Homo sapiens: one gene and its partners. The protein of the gene in region 1 purifies or fractionates together with the protein of each later gene. This does not show direct contact. Each region holds a gene or a part of one and is shown on either strand. Other genes may lie near its edges.

What was found.
Region 2: the proteins of FIBIN (region 1) and MELK purify together in Homo sapiens (affinity purification with mass spectrometry; one large-scale study listed by BioGRID and IntAct). This does not show direct contact.
Region 3: the proteins of FIBIN (region 1) and POTEE purify together in Homo sapiens (affinity purification with mass spectrometry; one large-scale study listed by BioGRID and IntAct). This does not show direct contact.
Region 4: the proteins of FIBIN (region 1) and MAN2B1 purify together in Homo sapiens (affinity purification with mass spectrometry; one large-scale study listed by BioGRID and IntAct). This does not show direct contact.
Region 5: the proteins of FIBIN (region 1) and TTC13 purify together in Homo sapiens (affinity purification with mass spectrometry; one large-scale study listed by BioGRID and IntAct). This does not show direct contact.
Region 6: the proteins of FIBIN (region 1) and MAP7D1 purify together in Homo sapiens (affinity purification with mass spectrometry; one large-scale study listed by BioGRID and IntAct). This does not show direct contact.
Region 7: the proteins of FIBIN (region 1) and GALNT18 purify together in Homo sapiens (affinity purification with mass spectrometry; one large-scale study listed by BioGRID and IntAct). This does not show direct contact.

Annotation. Positions count from the first base shown.
Region 1 is NC_000011.10:26,992,779-26,996,911, forward strand, and holds the start of FIBIN (fin bud initiation factor homolog precursor), read left to right. Parts: upstream 1-1,333; 5' UTR 1,334-1,748; coding exon 1,749-2,384; 3' UTR 2,385-4,133.
Region 2 is NC_000009.12:36,666,895-36,670,394, forward strand, and holds part of MELK (maternal embryonic leucine zipper kinase), read left to right. Parts: intron 1-2,415; coding exon 2,416-2,512; intron 2,513-3,500. UniProt on the Homo sapiens protein: Serine/threonine-protein kinase involved in various processes such as cell cycle regulation, self-renewal of stem cells, apoptosis and splicing regulation. Has a broad substrate specificity; phosphorylates BCL2L14, CDC25B, MAP3K5/ASK1 and ZNF622.
Region 3 is NC_000002.12:131,208,313-131,212,335, forward strand, and holds the start of POTEE (POTE ankyrin domain family member E), read left to right. Parts: upstream 1-1,223; 5' UTR 1,224-1,507; intron 1,508-2,715; 5' UTR 2,716-2,871; intron 2,872-4,023.
Region 4 is NC_000019.10:12,646,012-12,649,742, reverse strand, and holds the end of MAN2B1 (lysosomal alpha-mannosidase isoform 1 precursor), read left to right. Parts: intron 1-314; coding exon 315-402; intron 403-526; coding exon 527-607; intron 608-1,340; coding exon 1,341-1,568; intron 1,569-2,144; coding exon 2,145-2,300; intron 2,301-2,407; coding exon 2,408-2,510; intron 2,511-3,010; coding exon 3,011-3,123; 3' UTR 3,124-3,231; downstream 3,232-3,731. UniProt on the Homo sapiens protein: Necessary for the catabolism of N-linked carbohydrates released during glycoprotein turnover. Cleaves all known types of alpha-mannosidic linkages.
Region 5 is NC_000001.11:230,923,362-230,926,861, reverse strand, and holds part of TTC13 (tetratricopeptide repeat protein 13 isoform a precursor), read left to right. Parts: intron 1-1,214; coding exon 1,215-1,345; intron 1,346-1,888; coding exon 1,889-2,021; intron 2,022-2,928; coding exon 2,929-3,021; intron 3,022-3,500.
Region 6 is NC_000001.11:36,169,660-36,173,159, forward strand, and holds part of MAP7D1 (MAP7 domain-containing protein 1), read left to right. Parts: intron 1-1,311; coding exon 1,312-1,656; intron 1,657-1,853; coding exon 1,854-1,922; intron 1,923-2,804; coding exon 2,805-2,968; intron 2,969-3,500. UniProt on the Homo sapiens protein: Microtubule-stabilizing protein involved in the control of cell motility and neurite outgrowth. Facilitate microtubule stabilization through the maintenance of acetylated stable microtubules.
Region 7 is NC_000011.10:11,615,506-11,619,005, forward strand, and holds part of GALNT18 (polypeptide N-acetylgalactosaminyltransferase 18), read right to left. Parts: intron 1-3,500. UniProt on the Homo sapiens protein: Catalyzes the initial reaction in O-linked oligosaccharide biosynthesis, the transfer of an N-acetyl-D-galactosamine (GalNAc) residue from UDP-GalNAc to a serine or threonine residue on the protein receptor.

The DNA of each region.
Region 1 (4,133 bases):
GGTCTTACTCTGTCACCCAGGCTGGACTGCAGTGGTGCGATCTAGGCTCACAGCAACCTCCCTCTCCTGGATTCAAGCAATACTCCTGTCTTAGCCCCCTGAGTAACTGGGATTACAGGCATGCACCACCATGTCCAGCTATTTTTTTTTTTTTTTTTTGTATTTTCAGTAGAGATGGAGTTTCACCATGTTGGTCAGGCTGGTCTCGAACTTCTGACCTCAAGTGATCCACCCACCTCTGCCTCCCAAAGTGCTGGAATTACAGACGTGAGCCACCACGCCTGACCTATTTTCAAAAATTTAAGTTTTCTATTTCCCAAAATATAAGTGCCAGGAAGGCAAGGATTTGTCTTTATTTTTGTTCACAGCTGTATTCCCACTACCTCAAATAGATTTTGGCATGCAGTAAATGCTCAAGAAATATTCATTAAACAAATGAATGGCCTTTAGGATGGCCATTTGCCAATAAGTTCATAAATTAGAAATTAAAATGGCCAGGTTAAAAAAAAAAAAAAAAACATTGTTTTTCTCCCCCCAAGTTAAATTAAAAGACCTTGTGACAATTAGTTCTGGCTCAACTAAAGTCTAACTGTGTGACTATAATCAATTTGCTTAACATTCTGCTCCTTCATTTCTCCATCTGGAAAATGGGCATAATAGTACCAGAAACATTCTTCAAAAGCTTTCAAGACTCTCAAAAGAGGCAACAACTATAAAAGCATTAGGTTCAAGATTCAATGCAGATGCTTAGCATTGTTTCATAAAATTAAATAAGGATCTCATTGTCCTTTAACTCACTAAGCTGGCAAAATTTCATTTTTCTGCTTCTGTTCTTATACATACTAAAGACTATACATTAAGCAACTTTCTGTATTTTCATTTCATCCAAAGTATTGTTGATATAAATTTTAATTAACCAATCATTTTCAAACAAAACTGTAATTTCTGACACTTTAAATTTGCCTTCAAAGTCACAAAGTTTTAAAGATAAAAATAGATATACTCAGAAAATCCAACCTGATATTTATTGAGACACGTGAAATGGCATTTTTCCAGGGTAATCATTCCTTCCCCCTCCCAATATGTCAATAACAAACCAGGGTTTTTGTGGTGGAAATTCCATTTATTCTCTTCTCATTTTCTCTTTCGAGCTAAATTCTATTGTAGAGTCTTCCCTTCCAACCTTTAAAAAGCGACCCTGTACCTTTAATAGTGGAGACCTGGTGAGAGGTTCTTTTCCAAACTTGTTCCCTGGCTTCCAAGTGACGAAACCAGCTGTAATTTGAGAGCAGAGAGATCCTCAGGATATCTTTAGCCAAAGGAAAAGCTCCGCATTCCCACCCAGTCCAGAAATTGAAATACTATCAGGGGGCAAGAGCCTTTCTCTCCAGCTACACACTCCATCTCCCGGGAGCAAGGGGAAACTCCGAGAGGAGGGCAACAGAGCCAGCATCTTGCCAGGGCCCCGGAGGAGGGGTTCCCCGCTACGCCTGTGCCGGAGGAGTTCCAGTCACCGAGCGAGGGGCGCAAGGGTGGGTGCATCCTGCGCTGCGGCGGGCGCGCTACCCAGACGCTGGTGTGCAGAGCCACATGAAGCCTGCTGGGGACTGGGGGCCAGGGAGCAGCAAGCCAGCTGGGACTGAGGCGGACGCTGTCTCAGGGAGACGCTGACTCGCAAAGACACTCCCTTCCTTGTGCCTGGGTAAAAAGTCTCCTCCTGGGGTCCCTGGCCATCCTGAATATCCAGAATGGTGTTTCTGAAGTTCTTCTGCATGAGTTTCTTCTGCCACCTGTGTCAAGGCTACTTCGATGGCCCCCTCTACCCAGAGATGTCCAATGGGACTCTGCACCACTACTTCGTGCCCGATGGGGACTATGAGGAGAACGATGACCCCGAGAAGTGCCAGCTGCTCTTCAGGGTGAGTGACCACAGGCGCTGCTCCCAGGGGGAGGGGAGCCAGGTTGGCAGCCTGCTGAGCCTCACCCTGCGGGAGGAGTTCACCGTGCTGGGCCGCCAGGTGGAGGATGCTGGGCGCGTGCTGGAGGGCATCAGCAAAAGCATCTCCTACGACCTAGACGGGGAAGAGAGCTATGGCAAGTACCTGCGGCGGGAGTCCCACCAGATCGGGGATGCCTACTCCAACTCGGACAAATCCCTCACTGAGCTGGAGAGCAAGTTCAAGCAGGGCCAGGAACAGGACAGCCGGCAGGAGAGCAGGCTCAACGAGGACTTTCTGGGAATGCTGGTCCACACCAGGTCCCTGCTGAAGGAGACACTGGACATCTCTGTGGGGCTCAGGGACAAATACGAGCTGCTGGCCCTCACCATTAGGAGCCATGGGACCCGACTAGGTCGGCTGAAAAATGATTATCTTAAAGTATAGGTGGAAGGATACAAATGCTAGAAAGAGGGAATCAAATCAGCCCCGTTTTGGAGGGTGGGGGACAGAAGATGGGGCTACATTTCCCCCATACCTACTATTTTTTTATATCCCGATTTGCACTTTGAGAATACATCTAAGGTCATCTTTCAAAAGAGAAAAATTGGACACTTGAGTGACTTTGTTTTTAGTTTTGTTTTTGTACATTATTTATGTGATTGTTATGGAATTGTCACCTGGAAAGAACAATTTTAAGCAATGTCATTTCTAGATGGGTTTCTAATTCTGCAGAGACACCCGTTTCAGCCACATCTAAAAGAGCACAGTTTATGTGGTGCGGAATTAAACTTCCCCATCCTGCAGATTATGTGGAAATACCCAAAGATAATAGTGCATAGCTCCTTTCAGCCTCTAGCCTTCACTCCTGGGCTCCAAAAGCTATCCCAGTTGCCTGTTTTTCAAATGAGGTTCAAGGTGCTGCTTTGCATGCCTGCCAACCCATGGAAGTTGTTTCTTACTTCTTTTCTCTCTTATTTATTAACCATGGTCTGAGAGTTGTTTTTGTTCTATGTAACAGTATTGCCACAAAACTATAGGCAAATCGTGTTTGCAGGGAGATTTCTGATGCCTCTGTGGGTGTGTGTAAGTTAAAGTGGCCACATTTAAGAAGGCCAAGCTTTGTAGTGGTTGCACAGTCACACTGATATGCTGATTTGCTCTTTCTCATTGTATGTCTATGCTTTGTCATCAGTGCTATAGTAAATTACAAAGAAATAGGTAGATTGTATGAACATACCCACAAATGCCTATGATTTAGGTTACCAATGTATTCTTTCTCATTTGGGGTTTTGCTTCTGTCTGTCTGTTTATTGGAAACTTGTACTTCAAGTAGGGGGAATCCTAATTCTAATAACTCCTTAGCTAAGTTTTATTATTCAGGCAATAAACATGTTTTCATGTAATACTGGCTTACTTTGTAATTTACATCTGTAACTTTCATATTTCTAAAAGGGGCCAATGCAAAAGGAGAGAGAAGGACTGGATTTAAGCCAGTTTACTTAGAGTATATGATAAAGAAGGCAGAGGAATAGCTACATATTTGGCAATTCTCCTCTCTGTAGTCACCCTGACATCCTCACAAGAAAACAAATCTAGCCATTGCCCAAACTTTAAATTTGATCTCTATAGGTCTGCTTAAAGACTCAAATTTTCTCCAGTTTCTCTCATAAATTCAATTGCAAAAGTTTCTGACAAGGCTCATACCCTGTACCCTTATGCAGAGCAAGCATTCCATCCTAAGTTATAAACTACAGTGATGTTTAATTTTGAAGCCAGGTCTACATTATTTAATTAATGGCTTCAAAAGGTGGAGATGCACTTTATTTAATGTCTTTCCCTAGCTAATTCTTACTCTCACCTTAAATATGCTTTCTTGTTGCATATATGCACAGATACACACACACACACACACGAAAATAAATAAATGTTCATATTCTTCTGTTCAACAGACATTTATTTTCTCCTCTCCCTTGAATAAGAAAATAAGTTTTCCATTCCTATGAACTGTCTAATATCTTTCTATTACAGAAGGGGAAACTGAGGCTGGGAAAGGCTAAATGACTTATCCTCCATCAGTTATAACAGCCCCTGGTCTTCTTAAATTTAAACACGGGACTTCCCGAACTAATTTTTTTAAGGATACTGAAAAATGAGAGAGAGTGGTCGAATGCCTGAAATTTTGCTTAACTTACT
Region 2 (3,500 bases), on another chromosome or scaffold:
GTGTGTGTGTGTGATGGTGTGTGTGTGGGGGGGTGCGGTGGCGCTGCCTGTGGTTGTTATGAGAATTCAGTGAGATAGCCTCTACCCTGCAATGGTAGCTGCTATTGCATTCTTTCCCAATGAAAGGGTCTCTTTCTGTTCTGTTGTTTCTCTTACTGTAAATACAGTACCCTTTGTGACTCATGAGATTGGGCAGGGAGATAAAACGGACCTCAGCTCACCTTAGCTCATTCAACGATCTTTTTTTTCCCCTTTTTTTCTTTTTTTTTTAATTTCTTTGAGTTGGAGTCTTGCTCTGTTGCCCAGGCTGGAGTGCAGTGGTGCGATCTCGGCTCACTGCAACCTCTGCCTCCTGGGTTCAAGCGATTCTCCTGCCTCAGCCTCCCTAGTAGCTGGGATTACAGGCGCCTGCTACCACGCTCAGCTAATTTTCGTATTTTTAGTGAAGACAGGGCTTCACCATATTGGTCAGGCTGGTCTCAAACTCCTGACCTCAGGTGATCTGCCCTCTTCAGCCTCCCAAATTTCTGGGATTATAGGCGTGGGCCATTGTGCCCGGCCCAGGGCTTTTTTATTTAAAAAAAATTTTAATGCCATAATCCCTTCCATTATTGACATTTTTTACTTTTTGTGTAACTCTGAAGGTTTTGCAATATGGGTAGTTTGGAATTTATTTTATAATCTTGAAATATTATCAGTTGACATATGTTGTCATGACGAGAAAGATTGTGTTGGTCAAAGCTATTATTGGTTGTTTCTTTTTAAACACGAGCCACTTAAGGAAGCAAGTGGCTGAAGCCATGATTGTTAGCTTCCACTGGCACTTTGCATTTTTCTTTCTTTTCTTTTTTCTCTTCTCTCCTCTTCTCTTCTCTTTTCTTCTTTTTTTTGAGACAGAGTTTCACTCTTGTTGCCCAGGCTGGAGTGCAGTGGCATGATCTTGCCTCACTGCAACCTTCGCCTCCCAGGTTCAAGAGATTCTCCTGCCTCAGCCTCCTGAGTAGCTGGGATTACAGGTGCGCACCACCATGCCCGGTTAATTTTTTGTATTTTTAGTAGAGATGGGGTTTCAACATGTTGGGCAGGCTGCTCTCGAAACTCTTGACCTCAGGTGATCCACCTGCCTCGGCCTCCCAAAGTGCTGGGATTACGGGGGTGAGCCCACCATGCCCAGACCTGCATTTTACTTTCATTGTGAGTTATTTTTGACATAAACATAAATTTCATTTTCGTCACTCCTACACAATGCAGGCATTGGCAGTTTGTTGAAGGGCAGTTCTGTATGGTGATAGATACTGTCTGTATACAAAGATGAAAACTGTTTTTATAAATATTTCTGATTGCTCTTATTTTCTTGTTCTTGTGGAAAGTGAGAATGTAGCCAAATAGTCATAAACAAAACCAAGCCCCTAATCTCTTTTAAAATTTTGATATTATATCTTTGTTTTTATAGTGTGAATATTATCTCTAAAGGGTATAAAACTTTTAGATCATGAGCTAATCAGTATAACCAGATTCGTTAGTACAAATTTGTCATAAACTATCTGGAATGCAAATACCCTACTTAGAATAAAACACAAAATTCTGGAACAGGGAATATAAAAAATAATCAAAGCTTACATCTCTTTTTTTTTCCGAGATGAAGTCTTGCTCTGTCTCCCAGGCTGGAGTGCAATGGCGCGATCTCGGCTCACTGCAACATCTGCCTACTGGGTTCAAGGGATTCTTCTGCCTCAGCCTCCCAAGTGGCTGGGATTACAGGCGTGCGCCACCACGCCCAGCTAATTTTTTTGTATCTTTAGTAGAGATGGCATTTGACCATGTTGGCCAGGCTGGTCTCGAACTCCTGACCTCATGATCCGCCCTCCTCGGCCTCCCAAGGTGCTGGGATTACAGGCATGAGCCACTGTGCCTGGCCAAAGCTTACATCTCTTTAATAACTTATGTCAAGCTTTCACAGGGGTCTGTTCTTTTTGCCTAACATGAGTTGAATCGGGCTATGAATTCAATTAACACCTTTTAATACTAGATCAATTAAAAGCATAAATTGGGCCCTTGTATAAATACAGATTGACTTTTATTTTTAGAAAAAGAATCAGTAATTATGAGATTTGTATTTATATGATCTGTTTAGATTTATCATATGATGTTTATAATAAAATTAAAAGCATGGCCTAAATTTGCAGTGAAGAAAAAAAAGAAGAGCCACACATACAAAGCAAAATGATTTTGTTTTTATTATAAATCACATGGAAACATTTCTTGAAAGAATTAGAGCCTTCGACATCACAGGTCAAGTGATTATACTGTTTCTGAGTCAATGAATAATGTGATACCTGCATTATTATTAATAATAGAAATTTCAGAACCATAGTATGTGCTGCATATGGATTGTGTTTGTTCTGTTTCTAATAGCTAGAAACCAGTGCCTGAAAGAAACTCCAATTAAAATACCAGTAAATTCAACAGGAACAGACAAGTTAATGACAGGTGTCATTAGCCCTGAGAGGCGGTAAGTGTTTGGTTTTTTTAGACTCTAATCTTTAGTATATGTAACCAGATTTCCTTTTTCATGTATTAATAGACCTGATTAAGGTAAATCATCACATAGATTCTGTTGGAGAGTAGGAATATCTGTTTATGTGTGGATGACCTGTGGCCATTCCTGGACCTGTAGCCACTGCCTTCCTCATGGGGTAGAATCATGAAACTGATCAGCAGTAGGACGGCACCTTAAGTACAACAGGCTGGGAAGACAGTGGTCCTCACCCCAGCCAACTAGTTACCTCTCTGAGGCCCATCTTACCCTTCTCTTCTGCCAGTAAAATACAGATATCCTCTAACAGATTGTAGTCCTCCCAAATCGTAAAGATACTGTTGTTTCAAAGAAAATCCTCTGTATGAAAAGTTCTGCAGCATAGGTAACTCTTCAAGTTGCTATTCTTTTATAGCAATTTCTTAAAGGCATTGTCTATTTTCAAGACAATTGGAGAATTAGAATGTGGACAGGGTATTAGATGATATTATGGAATTATTATTAATTTATTGATGAAGAAACTGAGGAGATCAGGAATAAAATGATTTATCAAAGCTATATAGTACAAAGCTGGAGCCAGAACCCAGGTCTTCTCATTCCTAATCTTATGGTTTTTCTCCCACAGTCTGGAAGTGCTGGAGAACTACCTAGAAAGCCAACTAACACCACAGTAGTTTCTATTGAAAAATGCATTCAGGTTCCAAAATATTTACATAACTGACCATTTTTAGAACATTATCCGTTAGTATTTGGTAACTGCTTAGCTTCTCAATAATGTGTATATATGTGGTTGAACTAGTTTCCTTAATTTTATTTAACATTTTTCAGTGCAATGGTACTATGGTTTTTTTAAATCTCAGTGTCAGTGCTTGAAATACTTAACTATCTCCAACCAGAAAAATTTCAGAACAAAAGGATAAAATATGCCTAATAAACAGCCATATGTAACGTAAACTTCTCAGCA
Region 3 (4,023 bases), on another chromosome or scaffold:
AAAACATTTCCCCATAGTCTTTTCGCAAAGCCTTCTCCCCACTCCTGCTCACCTCCCCTTTTCCCCCTCCATCCACCCCCCAGAATATTCCCTACTGTCTTTTCACAGTCTTCCCCCCTTCCCACTCGTCCTCTTCTTTGCCCTATCCTGCTTGCCACTCTCTTTTTTGCCTTCCATCTACCCCAAACTATTTTCCCATTTTTTCCCCAACTCTCTTTCCCTGCTCCCTCTCGTCACCCTCTTTCCTCCTCCTCGTTACCCTCTTTCCCCCCACCATCTACCCAAACACTTTTTACCCACTGTCTTTTCTTTCTCCACCGTCTTTCTTTCCTGCCCACTATCTTTTTGCAAAACCTTGTCTTCCTCCCGCTGGCTACCCTTTTCCCTTCCCCCACCTGTTACCCTCTTTTCCCCCTCTATCTACCCAAAACCTTTTCTCCCCACTGTCTTTTCACAAAACCTTCTCTCTCTACTGCTCAACGCTGTTTCTCCCCCCCACCACCCTCTCTTTCCTCCTCCCTTGCCACCCTCTTTTCCTCCTCCATCTACCCATAAACATTTTACCCACCATCTTTCTGCAAAACCTTCCCTCCCTGCCGCTCCCCACCCCGTTTTTCTCCCTCCATCTACCCAAAAACTTTTTTTCCCACTATCTTTTCCCCACCGCCTTTTTGCAACGCGCTCTCCTGCTCACTATCCTCTCTTCCCTTTGGCACTAACCACCCTCTTTACCCCCTCCATCTATCCCAAAACTCTTTTCCTCCTCTTACCGCTTCCGCCGCACTGCCGTCTCGGTCGCGGTTACCACCAGTCGCAGCGAGGCGAGCCACGGTGTAGCGGCTCCAGCCTCCAGCGTACGGCTGGTGATTACCCATTCCTGGTCCTCTAAGCCGGGCACTGAGCAGCTCCACAGGAAAATACGGGAACGTGGAAGAGCCTGACTTCCCTTCAGCAGCAGGCGTATACCGCGGTTATATACAGGAGGATTCCTGACTGCATGTTCTGATTGGATGAGAAAAACCCTCCAGGGTTACTTGGATTGGACTTTATTATCATGTTCTGATTGGATGAGAGCCAGTCTTAAGACAACCAATCACAGCATGAAAATAAAGTCCAATCAGAGTAGGCCTAGAGGTTTTTCTCTCATCCAATCAGAACATGTAGTCTGGGAACCACATGTGCGTAACCTCAGTACGTAAAGCATGCGGAGGTGGCGTCAGGTCATTTCAGGCTCTTAAGTGTGGGCGTTTGGTAACCGGCATGGCTGCTACCTGTTTCTGGCTGGAGCCTCGGACACTGGCTCACTGCAGTTGGTGGTGTCCACAGAGCGGTAGGAGGGCAACTAGTAGCGGGAGCTTCTCCTGCCAGGCAGGAAGACGAGTAGAAGGGAGCAGCACCGACGCATGCTGGAGGCTGGAGCCTGAGCCCCTGGGGCTCGCCTTGCTGTGTTTGGTGGTGACGTGGGACACTGCAGCTCGGCCAGAGTGGTAGAAATGTCCTGGTGTAGGTGAGTTATCCGGGGATGTACTGCCCGCCTGTGGGGGCAGGGGTTGGGTGTCCTATTGGGGCTCACTGCCCGAGGCTGCACTGCCTGTGTCAGGGGGCTGGTTGGGGGCACTCTCCGAGGTTGCATTGCTGGCGGTGGAGGGGGGCGGTTTTGGCTGGCTGTCCGGGGCTACACTGCCCGTGGTGGCGGGGGTGGTGGGGGGGAGGCAGGTTGTGTGCACTAACGTGTACTGCCGGTGGCGGGGGAGGGGTTAGGGGCACTATTTTCTGCTGCACTGCCCGGGGCAGGGAGTGGTTTGGGTGGTTATTTGGAGCTACAATGCTGGCAGCGGGGGGTGGTTTAGGAGTGTTGTCGGGTGCTGCACTGCCCTTACTCAGGGTGCGCTATCAGGAGCTGCGCTACCTGTGGTGGGGTGGGGGCGGCGATTTTGGGGCACTGTCTTGTGCAGCAACACCTGTGGCTGGGTCAGGTTGTGGGCACTATCGGGTGCTACACTGCCTGTGGAAGGGGTGGTTGGGGGGGGGTATTGGGGTTACACTGCCTGCAACTGGCACAGGGTGTGTTGGGTGTGCTGTCCGGGGGCTACACTGCCGGCGGCAGGGGTCAGGTTAGGGTTGCTATGGGGGCTATACTGCCAGTGGTGTTGGTCGGCTGCAGAGGTGGTGGGGACAGCAACAGCCATGGTCTCCTTGCTCCTTCGGGTAACTCTTCTCTTTTCCAGACTCCAGAGTTCCTGCTCGTGCAATCTTGAGCAGGGCAGGGCCCCCACACCCACTGCGGTTCTCCGGCCTGCACCTCCCGCCCACACCCCATGCTCTGTGTTGGGGAGACCACCTGGGACTACCGGGTGGGGATTAGTGGGCATCGCGGGGGACTGTGGGAACAGGGCACTGTGGGTGGAGGTGTCAGGAACGGGAACCAGCAGTTGAGTGGGGAGGGCTGGCTGGGTCTGAGTTTCTCCTACTCCTGCTCCCCAAGGAGTGCAGCCCTGGTGGGCCCAGCAATTTCTGGCCAGTTGCACCTGGATGGGGGTGGTTTCAGCATAGGCACTCACACCCGCCCCAGTTCCTGGCCACCTTTTGCCAGAAAGAGAGGCTGGACTTCGGTGGGTGGGTGTGAGTGCCTTAGCTGAAGCTGGTCCCTGCCACCCAGTGGCCAGCATGACAAGGTGAGGCTCTAACGTTACCACTCCCTGCATCCCATTCTAGGCTTTTCTGGCTTTGCCGGTCTAGCTGCTCCAAGCCAGGCTGGAGGAGGAGGAGAAGGAATCACCTGTGGTACGCTGGAGCCTGCATGTGGCGTGACTCTGCAGCTCGCCTCGTGTGACTGATGGCAGCCACGGAGACTGCAGCTCGACAGGAGTGGTAGGAGGGTGCCCGCGGGGGCAAGGTGGTAGGAACCTTGTAGGGTGGGCTGCTGCATTGACGGCGACAGCAACTGTATTGGCATTGGTGCTAGTGGTGGTAGTGGCAGAAAGTCTGGGGACTGGGAAGGGGGAGTAGGAGCACTGCAGGGCCCAGTCCGACCTGGGGTGGGGAGGAACCTGCTGGTGCTGTACCATGGGCCTCGGTGGCAGTGGTGGAGGTGCACTTAGGGAAAGGAGTCCTCCCCCTTCTCTTGCAATCTCTGGAGGGTGGCCTCCTTCTGAGCCAGGCATGAGTGGCAGCATTGTCTCATTCTTAACAAAATTTAGGGGGTGACTGTGTGTGTGTGTGTGTGTGGCTTTTTTTTTTTTTTTTTTTTTTTTTTTTGAGACAGAGTCTCGCTCTTTTGCCCAGGCTGGAGTGCAGTGGTGCGATCTCGGCTCACTGCAAGCTCTGCTTCCTGGGTTCACCCCATCCTCCTGCCTCAGCCTCCCTAGTAGCTGGGACTACAGGCGCCTGCCACCACGCCCAGCCAATTTTATTTTTGTATTTTTAGTAGAGATGGGGTTTCACAGTGTTGGCCAGGATGGTCTAGATCACCTGACCTCATGATCCGCCCACCTTGGCCTCCCAAAGTGCTAGGATTATAGGCGTGAGCCACCACTCCCGGTCATTTTTTCCTTCTTTTTTGTTGTGATGGTCTTGGACTTTTTCAAATTTTGTGAATTGGGGAGGGGATAAAAGGTGTCATAATAGGCCTTCTAATTCCTGCACCTGTTCTTTTTGCTTTTTCTAGTCTGTGTATTCTTCTCATCTTCTTGTTCCTCTTCATTTTCTTTTGCTGCTGCTTCTATTTCATGTTTCTATTCTTGTTTCTCCTCCTCTTTTTGTTTTCTTTATGCCAAGCAATGGCCTTAACAAACAACAAGCCAAAATTGTCACTGTGTTGTATTTTTAAAATAACTGGTCCTTTACTATGTTTTAGGGATGAGGAAAAAAATCAGTTGTATAATTAGTTACTTGAATAGCTATGCTTTCATGATTGTGTTAAACCACTTATGCCTAGTGTTCCATTATTGGAATGGTAAGCATGAGGGAGTTAATTACATCCTACTGCTCAAGGTCATTAGAAGGTTTGATTTTTCACTCGTG
Region 4 (3,731 bases), on another chromosome or scaffold:
TGGGAAGCCGAGGCGGGCAGATCACAAGGTCAGGAGATCGAGACTATCCTGGCTAACATGGTGAAACCCCGTCTCTACTAAAAATACAAAAAAATCAGCCGGGTGTGGTGGCGGGCACCTGTAGTCCCAGCTACTCGGGAGGCTGAGGCAGGAGAATGGCGTGAAGCCGGGAGGCGGAGCTTGCAGTGAGCCGAGATCGCGCCACTGCACTCCAGCCTGGGTGACAGAGCGAGACTCCATCTCAAAAAAAAAAAAAAAAAAAAAAGAGTTGGGGAGCCAGATCCCAAGCCTGATCAGCTCACCCCCAACCCCAGGCGGGATTATCGACCCACCTGGAAACTGAACCAGACGGAGCCCGTGGCAGGAAACTACTATCCAGTCAACACCCGGATTTACATCACGGTAGCTCTCCCCCATCCTGCACCTCCCCACCTCGATAGAAAGGGAATCACCCCTTATCTGCAGCATCTCAAAGCTGCCTGGGGTTGGGGTTGACTGCCCTCTACTTTCACCCTTCAACTCCCAGGATGGAAACATGCAGCTGACTGTGCTGACTGACCGCTCCCAGGGGGGCAGCAGCCTGAGAGATGGCTCGCTGGAGCTCATGGTGAGTGGGTCAGAGCCCCATCCGAGCCAGGGTCCTCCCAACCTGGACCCCTGCTGGACCTTGAAGGCTGTTTCTGGCCCAGTTCTCTGCTTTCAGGCCCCACTAAGCTGAGGACTCCGTTTCTTTCTTTTCTTCTCTTTGAGACGGAGTTTTGCTCTTGTTGTCCAAGCTGGAGTGCAATAGTACTATCTCAGCTCACTGCAACCTCTGCCTCCTGGGTTCAAGTGATTGTCCTGCCTCAGCCTTCCGAGTAGCTGGGCTTACAGGCACACACCATCACGCCCGGCTAATTTTGGTATTTTTAGTAGAGATGGGGTTTCACCATGTTGGCCAGGCTGGTCTCGAACTCCTTACCTCAGGTGATCCACTCACCTCGGCCTCCCAAAGTGCTGGGATTACAGGCGTGAACCACCGCTCCCGGCCAAGGACTCCATTTCTGTGTGTGGCTTTTCCTCTCCGTTTTTCTCCATCTCCTGCCCAGGCTCCCTCCACGCTCTGGCGTGCCATATCCAGGCCCCCCTGTTAGGCATTTACCTCCTTCCGGCCTGGTTCCCATGCCTACTTGGATCCTGCCTCTGCTGGGGTTGCCCTACCAGACCCTCACCTTCATCCTCATCCGTTCCTCCCACCCTTTAATTTCTTTTGACATTCCCACACGCCCTTACCCAGTTTCTGGCCCAAGGACACCCACAAACCCACGACTCTCACCCCCTCCTGGCCACTCTCCCCCCAGGTGCACCGAAGGCTGCTGAAGGACGATGGACGCGGAGTATCGGAGCCACTAATGGAGAACGGGTCGGGGGCGTGGGTGCGAGGGCGCCACCTGGTGCTGCTGGACACAGCCCAGGCTGCAGCCGCCGGACACCGGCTCCTGGCGGAGCAGGAGGTCCTGGCCCCTCAGGTGGTGCTGGCCCCGGGTGGCGGCGCCGCCTACAATCTCGGGGCTCCTCCGCGCACGCAGGTGAGGGGCAGCGGGGTAGGCAGAGAGGACCGGATTGAAGTCTACCAGGGAGCCGGGTTTGGGTGCGGAGTTTCCTAGGCTCAGCGGGGATCCATTTGGCCATAATTAGCCCCAAACCCTCGGGCCAACCCCATCCCCTGGGCAGTCCCCGCCCAGTGCCAGCCCAGTCCCAACCCCCCTGGACTGTGTAGAGGCACAGCCCTAGCTCATGCCCCTAAACCACCAACTCACCTCCGGCCCCGCCCATTTCACTTTAGCCCCGCCCTCTCACCGCCCCCAGGCTCTGTCCTGCCTCACCCAGCCCCGCGGCTTCAGCCCCGCCGTAACTCCCAAAGTCTCAGGTCACATCAGTTCTGCTCCATCGGGACTCGAACCCTAAGCTTGGGACCGACCCATCTCCCCATTGGCTCAGTCCTCCCTGTCACGGCCCTGGCCGCTCCTCTCGGCTGAGCCTTGCCCCTCTCCGGCGAAACCCCGCCCCTACAACCTAGCCCTGCCTCCTGACCTGGCTCGGCCCCGCCCTTCTCCATCCAGGCCCCGCCCCTCTCCAACTCAGCCCCGCCCTCTCTCCCGCAGTTCTCAGGGCTGCGCAGGGACCTGCCGCCCTCGGTGCACCTGCTCACGCTGGCCAGCTGGGGCCCCGAAATGGTGCTGCTGCGCTTGGAGCACCAGTTTGCCGTAGGAGAGGATTCCGGACGTAACCTGAGCGCCCCCGTTACCTTGAACTTGAGGGTGAGAAGGGCAAAATTGAGAAGGAGATCGGAGAGAGGCAAGAGAGAGGGAGAGAAGAGAAACCTGGCTTTGCCCCAACTCATCTGGGCCCATCCCCTTCCCCGCAGGACCTGTTCTCCACCTTCACCATCACCCGCCTGCAGGAGACCACGCTGGTGGCCAACCAGCTCCGCGAGGCAGCCTCCAGGCTCAAGTGGACAACAAACACAGGTGGGGCCCTGGTCAGGGGTAGGGAAGGGGTGGAGTCTTACCTGGGGCCGGCAGGTGGGGGCAATGTGTGAGGCATGGGATGTTGGCCAGGACCCAAAAAGGTCATGAGGGTATGGGGCAGAGTCCAGACCCAGGTTAGGGGCTTAAAGGATCTGAAATGGGTGCGGCAAACCAGGAATGGGTCTTGAGGTTTGTGGGTGCTGTTTAGTCCCAAGAACAAGATTTGAAAATCCCCATCCATGTCTAGTTCTGGGAGGGTGTTCATCACCCCTGGGGTCAGATTGAGGGTACGAGGACAGTGGCCAGATTGAGGGTATGAGGACATTGGACCTGGGGGTGGTATTCGGGGCCGGGGAAGCAGGTTAAGAGTCTGGGATTGAGGCCCTGGAGACAGATTCGGGGATATGCAGCTGTGTCTAGACCCAGGGGAGGAAGCATCGTGGGGTGAGTCAGAGGAAGTCTGCACCTCCTCACTCCTCCTTCCCCCTGCACCTCTCCAGGCCCCACACCCCACCAAACTCCGTACCAGCTGGACCCGGCCAACATCACGCTGGAACCCATGGAAATCCGCACTTTCCTGGCCTCAGTTCAATGGAAGGAGGTGGATGGTTAGGTCTGCTGGGATGGGCCCTCCAAGCCCAAGCCTCCTGCTCCGGGGGCAGACCAGACTCTGACTCTCCTCTTGGGGCTGCTGCCATTAAAACGCTACTACTAAGACTCAGGTCGCTCTGTGACTGAGTGTGGGTTTTTTTTGTCTGTTATTTGCTTGTTAGAGGGGGACAGAATTTATGACCCAGAGCCGGGTGTGGTGGCTTGCTCCTGTAATCCTAACAACTCTGGAGGCTGAGGAGAGAGAATCACTTGAGCCCAGGAGATCTAGACTAGCCTGGGCCACAAAATGAGGCCCTGTATGTACAAAAAATTTAAAAAATTAGCTGGGTGAAGTGTCTGTATTCCCAACTACTTGGGAGAATTGCTTGAGCACAGGAGGTCAAGGCTGCAGTAAGTGATAATCACACCACTGCACTCCAGCCTGGGCAAGAGAGCCAGATCCTATCTCTTCGTGTGTGTGTGTGTGTGTGTGAGGGACAGAGTCTCCCTCTGTCGCCTAGGCTGGAGTGCAGTGGCGCAATCTTGGCTCACTGCAACCTCCGCCTTCCGGGTTCTAGCGATTCTCTTGCCTCAGCCTTCCGAGTAGCTGGGACTACAGGCGCCCCCCAC
Region 5 (3,500 bases), on another chromosome or scaffold:
GGAAAGCAGCATACAAGTAGATACAACTGCATGAATTGCTCTAGTTCTTAAACTGGGTAATTTGACTTCGTGTTTTCTATGTGTCTCAACTATTAAATGAGCAAAAATAATAAAAAGAAAATTGATTGCTCATGGAGATTATGCATGTTCTCGAACTACTCCTTTTTTGAGAAATATTTCGATGCACAAAAGAGTTAACATAGTAGCAGGTCTATGACTGCTGTCCTTAGAAAGGACTGCTTGCAAGAGTGACCCTTGGTTGGTATCTGGGAACTTGGATTTCGAGGGGATTCCTACCACTCCCAAAACTAATAGGAGAGGTTCCCTGTGCCTAAACTGTGTGTTCAAACAGTGTGATTTCTATTCAACACTTGCTTTCCTTCTGGGTATCTGGAATTTGGGAACTTGCCAGGCATAAGTTGTCTGTAACCCTGGCCACTGAGTCTTTAATGAGCTTTCCTGGTTGGCAGCATTTTACACGTGTTCGCAACTAATCGCTGGGAGAATTTAATGTGTCATATATGACTTCCTTGGGAGAGGACCCTTGGAAGCTTGTGACTGGTTTCCTCCAGACTTCTCCCAATGTGCCTCTTCCCTCTGCCGGTTTTGTTTTGTAAAGGACACAAAATAAAAAATGATACTCACTATTGTGAGTATCATTATGTGCTAAGTCCACTGAGCCCTTTCAGCCAATTTCTGAGCCTGAGTAAGGATGGTCTTGGAGATCCCCAGAACAACCTGTAATTTAGAGTTTCAGTCTTTGTTATAAAAGCATCAAGCAGGTTGGCAGCTAAACAGTAGTATTTCAATGTATCATTCCAAGTATACTTGTTCTAATACAACTTGGGCAGGGTTGAGGAGTGGACAAAGGGCAGAGGTTTGGTTGCTTGTTGAAAAAGGCAGTCCATTCAGGAATGTATTCTGGAGAAGTTTACAAAGCAAATAATGGAAAGAGGTGTCTTCTGAATTGCATACTAGTTATCATAGTTTTCACTGTTACTAACCAGCATGTGATGGCAATTATGCACATGCCATCATAGAGATTCCCTTTTAAGCTGAGGTATGGTTGGGTGCAAAGGACTGAAGTAAGGATTATGTGGTCGTAGACTGCTTCATTAGTTTTCCCGTGGAGGAAGTGACTGCTTCTCAGGTGGAATTGGATTACCAAATGTCTGTTGTAAAAGTCCTTATCATGTACATGATGTTTCTTCCAGAGATGTGTTACATCAGAATTTTGAGAGTTATAAGCCTGAAGTACAGGAGCTGATTTGTGTGGCTGATCGTTTGGGATCCCTGATGCAATATGAAACACCTGGTTTCCTGCCAAACAAGAGAATACACAGAGGTATTCTGGAAACTACCTGAAAATGAAAATATTCCTGGCATAAGAGGAAGGGTGGTTAAGCCATGTTGTGCATTTTAATAAATTAGTATTTATTGTGCTTATTCAAATTCTCCATGTGATCAGAATAGAAATGTGTAGAATCATTCAAACTGAATTCTGAAAGAAGACTGCTTCCATCCTTGGCTTTTTTGCTATTGCTGTAGTATAAACTAGAATATAGGTCTTAAGTCCTTACTCAAAATCAGACAGCTGATCCAGGGAGCTATTTCCTTACTATAGGAGTGAGGAAGAATGCAAACCTCCACTTGTTTCAGTAGGAGGCAGAGTTGGGAGCAGACAACTTGAGTTGTCTTCAGTTAACTCTGATGGGTTTTAATTTTAGTAGGACCATCATGACTGAAACGTGCCTTGGGTCTTGTTATATCACCAATACTTCTGACCCTTTATGTGTTAACTCTTGAGTTATCACTGAGACTCTGTAAAGTAGGTGGAACTCAGTCCCTCTAAAGTGTACTAACTCTTCTCGATATTCCTTTCTCGTAGCTATGGGTTTGGCCGCATTGGAGGTCATGCAAGCCGTGCAGCGTACATGGACCAACTCGAAAGTTCGAATGAATGGGAAGACACGGTTGATGCAGTGGAGAGACATGTTTGACATTGCAGTTAAATGGAGAAGGTAACTAACATCTCAGTGAAAATAAACTATAAGTCTTATCATTGTCAAATAACGTCAGTCTGTTTTAGCTAACAGGCTATGAACCCTGTTTTGCTTGCTAACACCAGGCCTTCCAAGTTAGGTTTTCCTCTCTAAAGTTTGTTAGAAATTGCTGGCATCTTTATTATTTGACATACACTTAACTAATATTTTCAAAATAGGAATTGATTGGCTGGGCGCAGTGGCTCACGCCTGTAATCCCAGCACTTTGGGAGGCCGAGGCGGGCGGATCACCAAGTCAGGAGATCGAGACCATTCTGGCTAACACGGTGAAACCCCGTCTCTGCTAAAAATACAAAAAATTAGCTGGGCGTGGTGGTGCGCGCCTGTAGTCGCAGCTACTCCGGAGGCTGAGGCAGGAGAATGGCGTGAACCCAGGAGGCGGAGCTTGCAGTGAGCCGAGATCGCGCCACTGCACTCCAGCCTGGGCGACACAGCGAGACTCCATCTCAAAAAACAAAAAAAACGAATTGATTGTTGTCACATTTTCAATCACCTATTTACATGAAGCATTTTAGAAACAGTCTCTTTGAAAGAACAGATCCATTACCTGTGGTACCTCTGAATGAACTTCGCTGGACCAGTCCCTTTACAGATAATGGTGTGCCTGGCAACTAGCTAGTTTAGAGTAACCTTTGATATTCATTTGCGTGACAAAAACTGTCCTCTGCTCCTAAACCTTTACCTTTACCTGGCTTTTCGCCTGGTCCAGCTGGAACATCTGTTTGGAATTTGTAGGTATGGACATCACGTTTTTAGATATGATGGACTAGCTGTTGCTTTATCCCCACCTTTGCAAACACTTCTACATGTTTTATTTGGAATGCTTCTGAACACTTCTGGTTTTATAAAGGTCTCTGTTTTATAGGATTGCTGACCCAGACCAGCCCGTGCTGTGGTTAGATCAAATGCCAGCACGAAGTCTTAGCAGAGGTTTTAACAACCACATTAATTTAATCAGGTACGAACCTTTTGTGCATCTTTCTTCTTTTCCTAGGAGTTTATTCTCAAGACACAGGCCATGGAGACCAGGAGTGACCCATTGCTCCTTTCCTGGTGACTTTTTGACCAGGGAACATACTGATTGACTCTGCACCTGTGGAGTCCTGCCTGCATTCCTTTCCTCTAGCCCAGCTGCAGAAAGAAACATAGCGCATGCCATACTCCTTCCCCAGGCCCTTCTGTCTGGTGTAGAGCACAACCGAAGGGTAGATTGCAGATGTTTTCCTAGGGCGTCAGTCTTTAAGGAGTCTTAAAATATAGAAAATTATTAGATGGAGAACATTACAGTAACCATAATATTCTTTTGATAGTACATGGCTCAAATAAATTATTTGACAAGTCTCTCGTGGTGGAGTCTCTCACGGTGGGCGGCTCCCCATTCCACCCCAACACACAAAGGGCTTAGATAAATAACACTATCTGGTAACTAAGCTGCCA
Region 6 (3,500 bases), on another chromosome or scaffold:
TGCCTGGATGGTAGCAGCAGATGGCACCAGGGCTCAACATACAGAAGCTTCTGTTTGGGAGACCAGGAGGCTTCATAAGACCAACAGGGAGTGCTGTTTGCTGGCTGGCATGTGGATAGTGCCAGGCACCTTGCTGACATTCCCTACTAGCTTGGGCTTGTTATCCCCATTTTACAGGTATCAAAACTGAGGCTGAGCCAGGCATGGGCCTGTAATCCCAGCTACTTGGGAGACTGAGGCAGAAGGATCTCTTGAACTCAGGAGTTTGAATCCAGCCTGGGCCACATAGCAAGACCCTATCTCTTAAAAAATAAAAATTTAAAAAAAGAGACTTAAAGGAACTAACTAGACCCTTGAAAAATTCACTAGCAGCAAGTAGACTTGGGGGGAAACAAAACAAAACAAAACAAAAAAACCTGAGGCTGAGAGAGGTTGACTGGCTTGTCCATGGTTGTCTGCTGGGGAAACAAGCCCTCTCTTCCCATCTTCCTCATCTGACTGACTCTGAAGCCTGTCTCTCAATTGCCCCACATGTGTATATGTCAAATCGTGTGGCTCCCTTACTTCACTTCGATGTCTTTTACAGGATTCCTACAATAGTCATGTCTTAAAAGCAGAAATTTCGGTGTGGCTTGGGGAAAAAAGATTATAAAGTGGACGTAGCTTGTTGCCAATGGAATCTTCACAGCAAAGCATTCCACTAGAGCCCATACTTACGTCCTTCCTCTTGGTCAGTCCCATGTGCCCAGCACTGGCACCCTCTGTGAACAGACCTTGGGTTGGGCACAGTCACCCAGAAGTAAAGCAGAAAGGAGAGGGAGGCAGACATGGAAACAATCAGTGCATTTGGTGCACGAATAAGTGCTACAAGCTTGTTCTCAGCTTTTCCAACACACCCTGCTCCATTCTGCCCCTTCGCATATACTCTTCTCTGCCAACACCTCTCCTCCTTGCTTTGCTGACTCCAGCTTATCCTTCGGATCTCAGCTTGGTTGTTACTTCTTCAGCAAGCCCTCCCCATATAGGTTAACTATCTCTGCTTTGCTGCCCCAGACATAGTATTTATTCTCTACTGTAGTTGCCTAGCTATTTGTCTGTCTGCCCTGCTAGAGGGTAAGCGCCACAGAGGCAGGGATCATGGCTATTTTCTCACCATTATATCATGAGTATCTGGAACAGGGCCCGGCACATAGAAATAACTCAAACATAAGTGAATGAAGAAGTCGGTTGAACAAGGGAGAGGGCCACATATGGGGCTGATGGCACAGATGAGCAATCTGACCTCTCTCCTCTCTTGTGTTGGTCTTTCAGCTGTGGTCGCCAGGACCCCCCCAGAGCCAAGACCTTCTCCAGAAGGTGACCCTTCCCCCCCACCACCACCAATGTCAGCCCTGGTCCCCGACACTCCCCCGGACACCCCTCCTGCCATGAAGAATGCCACTAGCTCTAAGCAGCTCCCACTGGAACCAGAGAGCCCCTCAGGGCAGGTCGGGCCTAGGCCAGCCCCCCCGCAGGAAGAGTCCCCTTCCTCTGAAGCAAAGAGCAGAGGACCCACCCCACCAGCCATGGGCCCACGGGATGCCAGACCTCCTCGAAGGAGCAGCCAGCCATCTCCAACAGCAGTGCCAGCCTCCGACAGCCCTCCCACCAAGCAAGGTGTGTGTAATGACCCCGGCCTGGGCCTAAACCTCTTGGCTCAGGGTCCTGGCCCTGGATCATGCCAACTGAAAGAGTCCTGTTTGCCCTAGAGGAGATAAAGAAAGGATGGGGTGAGGCCCGGAGGGAGGGATCTGAGGCTGACTCCTCTTTGGGGACAGCCTTTTGACCTGTCTGTTCTTGTTCCCTCTGCTCAGAGGTGAAGAAGGCAGGAGAGAGACACAAGCTGGCAAAGGAGCGGCGAGAAGAGCGGGCCAAGTACCTGGGTGAGTGAGCAGGAAGCCTCATCATCTTCTTCATCGTCATCATCAGCATCCTATTAATAACACCAACAGGCTGGGGCGCAGTGGCTCACGCCTGTAATCCCAGCACTTTGGGAGGCCGAGGCGGGCGAATCACCTGAGGTCAGGAGTTTGAGACTAGCCTGACCAATGTGGAGAAACCCTGTCTCTACTAAAAATACAAAAAATTAGCCAGGCATGGTGGCACATCCCTGTAATCCCAGCTACTCGGGAGACTGAGATAGGAGAACTGCTTGAACCTGGGAGGCGGAGGTTGTGGTGAGCCGAGATTGTGCCATTGCACTCCAGTCTGGGCAACAAGAGCAAAACTCCGTCTCAAAAAAAAAAAAAAAAAAAAAAAACCAACACTTCTGCAACACTTAATTATGTGCACTGTGCTAAGAGCAGGACACACATCTAATTTAATCCTCAACCCATTTTGAGGAGGAAACAGAGGCTCAGAGAGATGAAATCATTTGCTTAAGCCACACAGCTAGTAGAGTAGCTGACATTCAGACCCAGAAGCCTCCTGCCACCCCAAATCCCATGCTCTTAATCACAGTATGTGGACATCTGTCTGGTAGGCCCCCCAGGTCAGATGGGGATCTTGCACTCAAGCATTCATTTCTCCTTCAGCCCTGAGAGCCCATAAGGCCAATGGAGGAGAAATAGGCCTCTCCTGAGTCCTGTCTTCAGTAAGCCTCTCAATTTGAGGGGGTTGTCTCAGACTGAAAGCTCCACCTAAGCAGGCGGGAGAAAGACCCACCCAGGGCATGGGTAGCAGGGCTGGCCACTTGGAGGAAATGTCCTTGGCCCAGGCCTTCTGCAGAACCCTTCACACACGCCACTGGGCTCCTTTGTCCACAGCGGCCAAGAAGGCAGTGTGGCTGGAGAAGGAGGAGAAGGCCAAGGCGCTGCGGGAGAAGCAGCTCCAGGAGCGCCGGCGCCGGCTGGAGGAGCAACGTCTTAAAGCCGAGCAACGCCGTGCAGCCCTGGAGGAACGGCAGCGGCAGAAGCTCGAGAAAAACAAGGTGCGGGATGGGTCTCCGTGAATCCATGTACACGTGTGCTCACCGTCTGCATACTGGTGCAGTGTGTACACACATCCATGTTCACGGCTCTGCCTTATCTGTGTCTATGTGGTCCTATTTGTGTTCACATCTACAGTTGTGTCCCTGTGTTAGAATATCTGGGCACCTGTACAACTGCAGGCACATTTGCTTCTGAATGTGCCACTGTAGGCCCCTGTAACTGTTTACTGTCAGTACCTGTGTTCGTACATGTACCCCATGTGTCTGTATGTATGCAGGTATGCATCTGTGTGAGCGTGCCTAGCTCTGTGACATGGGTAAAGCCCTAGCTTGAGTGCTGGTGAGGAAATGAAGGAAATGGCCACCTGGCCCTACCTGGGAGGGCCTCAGGCTAGAGGGAACACATAGCCCCAAGGTCAGGACCCTCAGTGCCTGAGATGTGGCCTTGCCTGGGAGCCCCAGGTAGGGGGAGTCCACCCAATCCTCAGAGAATCAACTCATGCACTCAGGAAATGACTCAGGAACAGTGAAA
Region 7 (3,500 bases), about 15 Mb from region 1:
AGGGTAAATAGATGTTACAAGAACACCACCCAGAAATTCAATTTCCTTTTAGATTTATTTACTCTCCTGAATTTGTTTATACCACCATCATCCCTCACAAAAATGTAACAGTCTGATCTTTCCTCTTTTCCTGAAACAGTTATTTTCAACTTTTTTTTTAAAGAAGTACAACTTTTTATAAAATGAAATATTTTATAGAATGCCAAATAGAAAACAGAAGACAGTGGAGTTTTGTTGTTTGCAGGGAGGGGAGGGAGCACCTACAGGCAGAGTCTGGGAGACCCCACTTAACCCTTTTAATTCTCAGGCCCCAGATCAAACCTTCTACAAGTTTAGGTCTCCTGGGTACACAGTTTGAAAACCACTGCCCTAAGGCATCTATGTAAAATTAAAATTATGTATGTAACATATAATACAGGCAAAATATTTATGTATCAAAAAAATTTGTAAAATACACAAATCACAAACACTGAGTCTTTTTTTCTTCTTCTTCTTCTTCTTTTTTTCTTTGTAGAGATGGGGGTCTCACCATGTTGTCCAGGTTGGTCTTGAACTCCTGGGCTCAAGTGATCCTCCCACCTTGGCCTCCTAAAGTGCTGGGATTATAGGTATAAGCCACCACGCCTGGCCAAACACTGATAGTCTTAGAGAACAATAAGCAAGGACACAAATAGTCCCACAAGATAAAACAAATACCAGGGGTGGGGGAGGATATTAAGTTCTAGAGTAATCAAAGGAGTACAAATCAAAAGAATAGAGCATTTGACAGGGATTACATTTACTCGGAAAAATTTGAATGATAACACCCAATGCTGGCCAGGCTCCATGACTTTGGTACAATAAGACACTGTTGGTGGCTGTAAAGAAAGCCTTTCCTTCTGAAAAAACAATCTTTCATAAAAATGTTCAGACTCTTTGAGTCAGTACTAATCCCACTTCTGGAAAGACATCCTTAAACATAATTCAAAAAACAGTGAGGTGAAGATGTTCATTTCTGCTCTAATTATAATAGCAAAACAAATGTCCAATAATAGGAAAGTGGTTGAATCAATAATAGTATACTGATGACAGAATACTATGCAGTCATTAAAAATACAGTAAAAGTTCTCTTTAGAAACTCTCCATTTAATCAATTCTCCAGATTAACTATGCTTGCCATTCCCTCTGTAACAAACCCTATTTGTCTCTAGTACCACTGCCCACAGCTCCTGCAAATAGTTGAGTTTTACACTTACCAGTGGTCCACTGGGTTTGTTCTCAAACGTGTTTACACTATTTGTACTTGTCACTGTAACGGCATAACCTAATCACGTATTATATAAACCAATGAAATATGACGGCTAAAAAGATGAGTGTTGTTTCTAAGAAAATTACTTTAAGTTCTAAGTGCTTTGCAAAGGTTTTATAAACGGTAGTCAGTTAAAGAATAGCAATCAAATTACATGTGAGCAAAATCATTGCAAAAGATCAGACAAAAATCGTAACAATTTAGGCTACTACACTGAGACTGCTTCATAAGCACCTTTAAGTTTCCAATGAATTTTAAAGAAAACAGAACTATGGGATATTATGGGAGTGGTTTGTGCAAGGAAGATGAACAGGACGCCAATTGGCAGATGCATCCCAAAGACAGAACTTTGGCCTGATATCAAAAGTCTAGCAAATGAATGTACATTTTGGAAAACATTAAAATAAAAATATTTAATTGTATGTATGTAATACTTTGTTGTACTCTCCTCTTTAACCAATTTTTCTATTAACTAACTCAAGCCCTGACCACGTTGACTAAAAGGGATTCTTTGTCCTTTGAAAACAAGTCCGCTATGACAAGGACCAAGAGTGCCCATACTCCTGTAGAGTGTCTCTAGTATACAGTTCACCACTGTAATCACTTTCTCAGTGCAGTGTCTGGCACACATTAGGTCTCCAACAGATAAATGTTAAACCAATAAACTATGTAGCAAATATGGAAAAAATAGTGCTTCGTTAACAAAAAGAAAGTGAACAAAGCAGAATATAAAATTACATGTAAATCATGACTACACCTTCATTTTGAAATATGGAGGCAAATGAACAAATCCAGAAGGAAATGCTCAAAATGCAAACTGATTTTTAGGGTAGAATGAATTATGGGCAATTTTATGCATTTTTAAATATTTTCTTAAACATTGGCACATTCTTTTCCATATTCAGAAAGCTACTAAGAAAAGAAGAAAGCTATCTTTATTTTTACTGAATTTCCAAAATAAGAACTGAATCAACATTTCCATTTCCTGCACTCTCCAACACTGAGAACTCCTTTAGCAGATTCTTGCTTCATCCGCCTCACCGTGTCAAGCCATCAGATCTTTCTACTCCTAAGATGGAGAGAACCTGACCCTTACTAACATTTACTTTGTGTTTCTAAACCCCCAGGATGCTTTTTTTAAAAACTCATAAGTTATCCACCCTCTCATTTAACGTCTATTTGGTCAAAAAACTTCCCAAAACTGCAATTTACATTCCCAAGAGATTCCCAAACACCATCTAATTAAATCATTCAATCAGAAAACAAATTAAAATGAAATATCACTGCAACTCCCAAGACGAAAATAAACTTTTCAGTCATGACTAGAACAGACCTCTGGGGTGATGCTCCAAAGCCTCTTCTAATTGCAAGTCCTATGGAACATCCTGCAGAACATTTTGTGACATTTGCAGCTTCAAGGAGACTTTCCTTCTAACAAAAAGAGGAGCCTGGACAAGACTCCAAAGCAAAACACCTTTTTTGGAGAGTGGTAACACTTTCATTAATAACCAACGTGGCCATAGGCATCAGCACTCATCCATTCATCCACGCTTCCACCCCACAGCTACTTTCTGCAGAATGTGCCAGGGACTGTCCTGCATGTTCAGTAAACATTAGTTAAAGGACTGGAACCTCTGCCTCTTGGCATGAAACAAAGCAAAACCTGAGTTTATCTATGGAGTTTCCAAGTGGGAAGGCTGCTGACTCCCTCACCCCTCAGCCATCCTCTGACACCCACTTCCACCACTGTCAACAGACTCCAAGGGACCCTGGGGCCCTCCTGGGAGACAGTTTAGTACGTGGGTAAGAACTTAGACTTCTGAAGCCACACTAGCTGAGCTTACATCCCTATACTATCATATACCAGTGTGTGACCCTGGACAAATCATATACCCTCTCCCTGCCTCAGTTTCCATATCTGTAAAATGGAGCAAATATTACCTACTTCATAAGGTTGTGAAGATTAAATAAGTCAATATATGTAAAGTGTTTAGAATAGGGCCTGACATATCCTAGGTGCTATGTTATTTTAGCTCTTATTATTATTACCGCTTATTCCCTCCAGTTCAGCAAAGTAAACTGGATTGTTCAAAGGGCTATGCTGACTAGAGGGAACTTGACAGTGGGTTACACATAAACAGCTTGTACCATCAAGCACAAGAGCTTGATCTTATTGTCCTTTACCACCCTCTGCCTTCAGAGAGCTGCACTT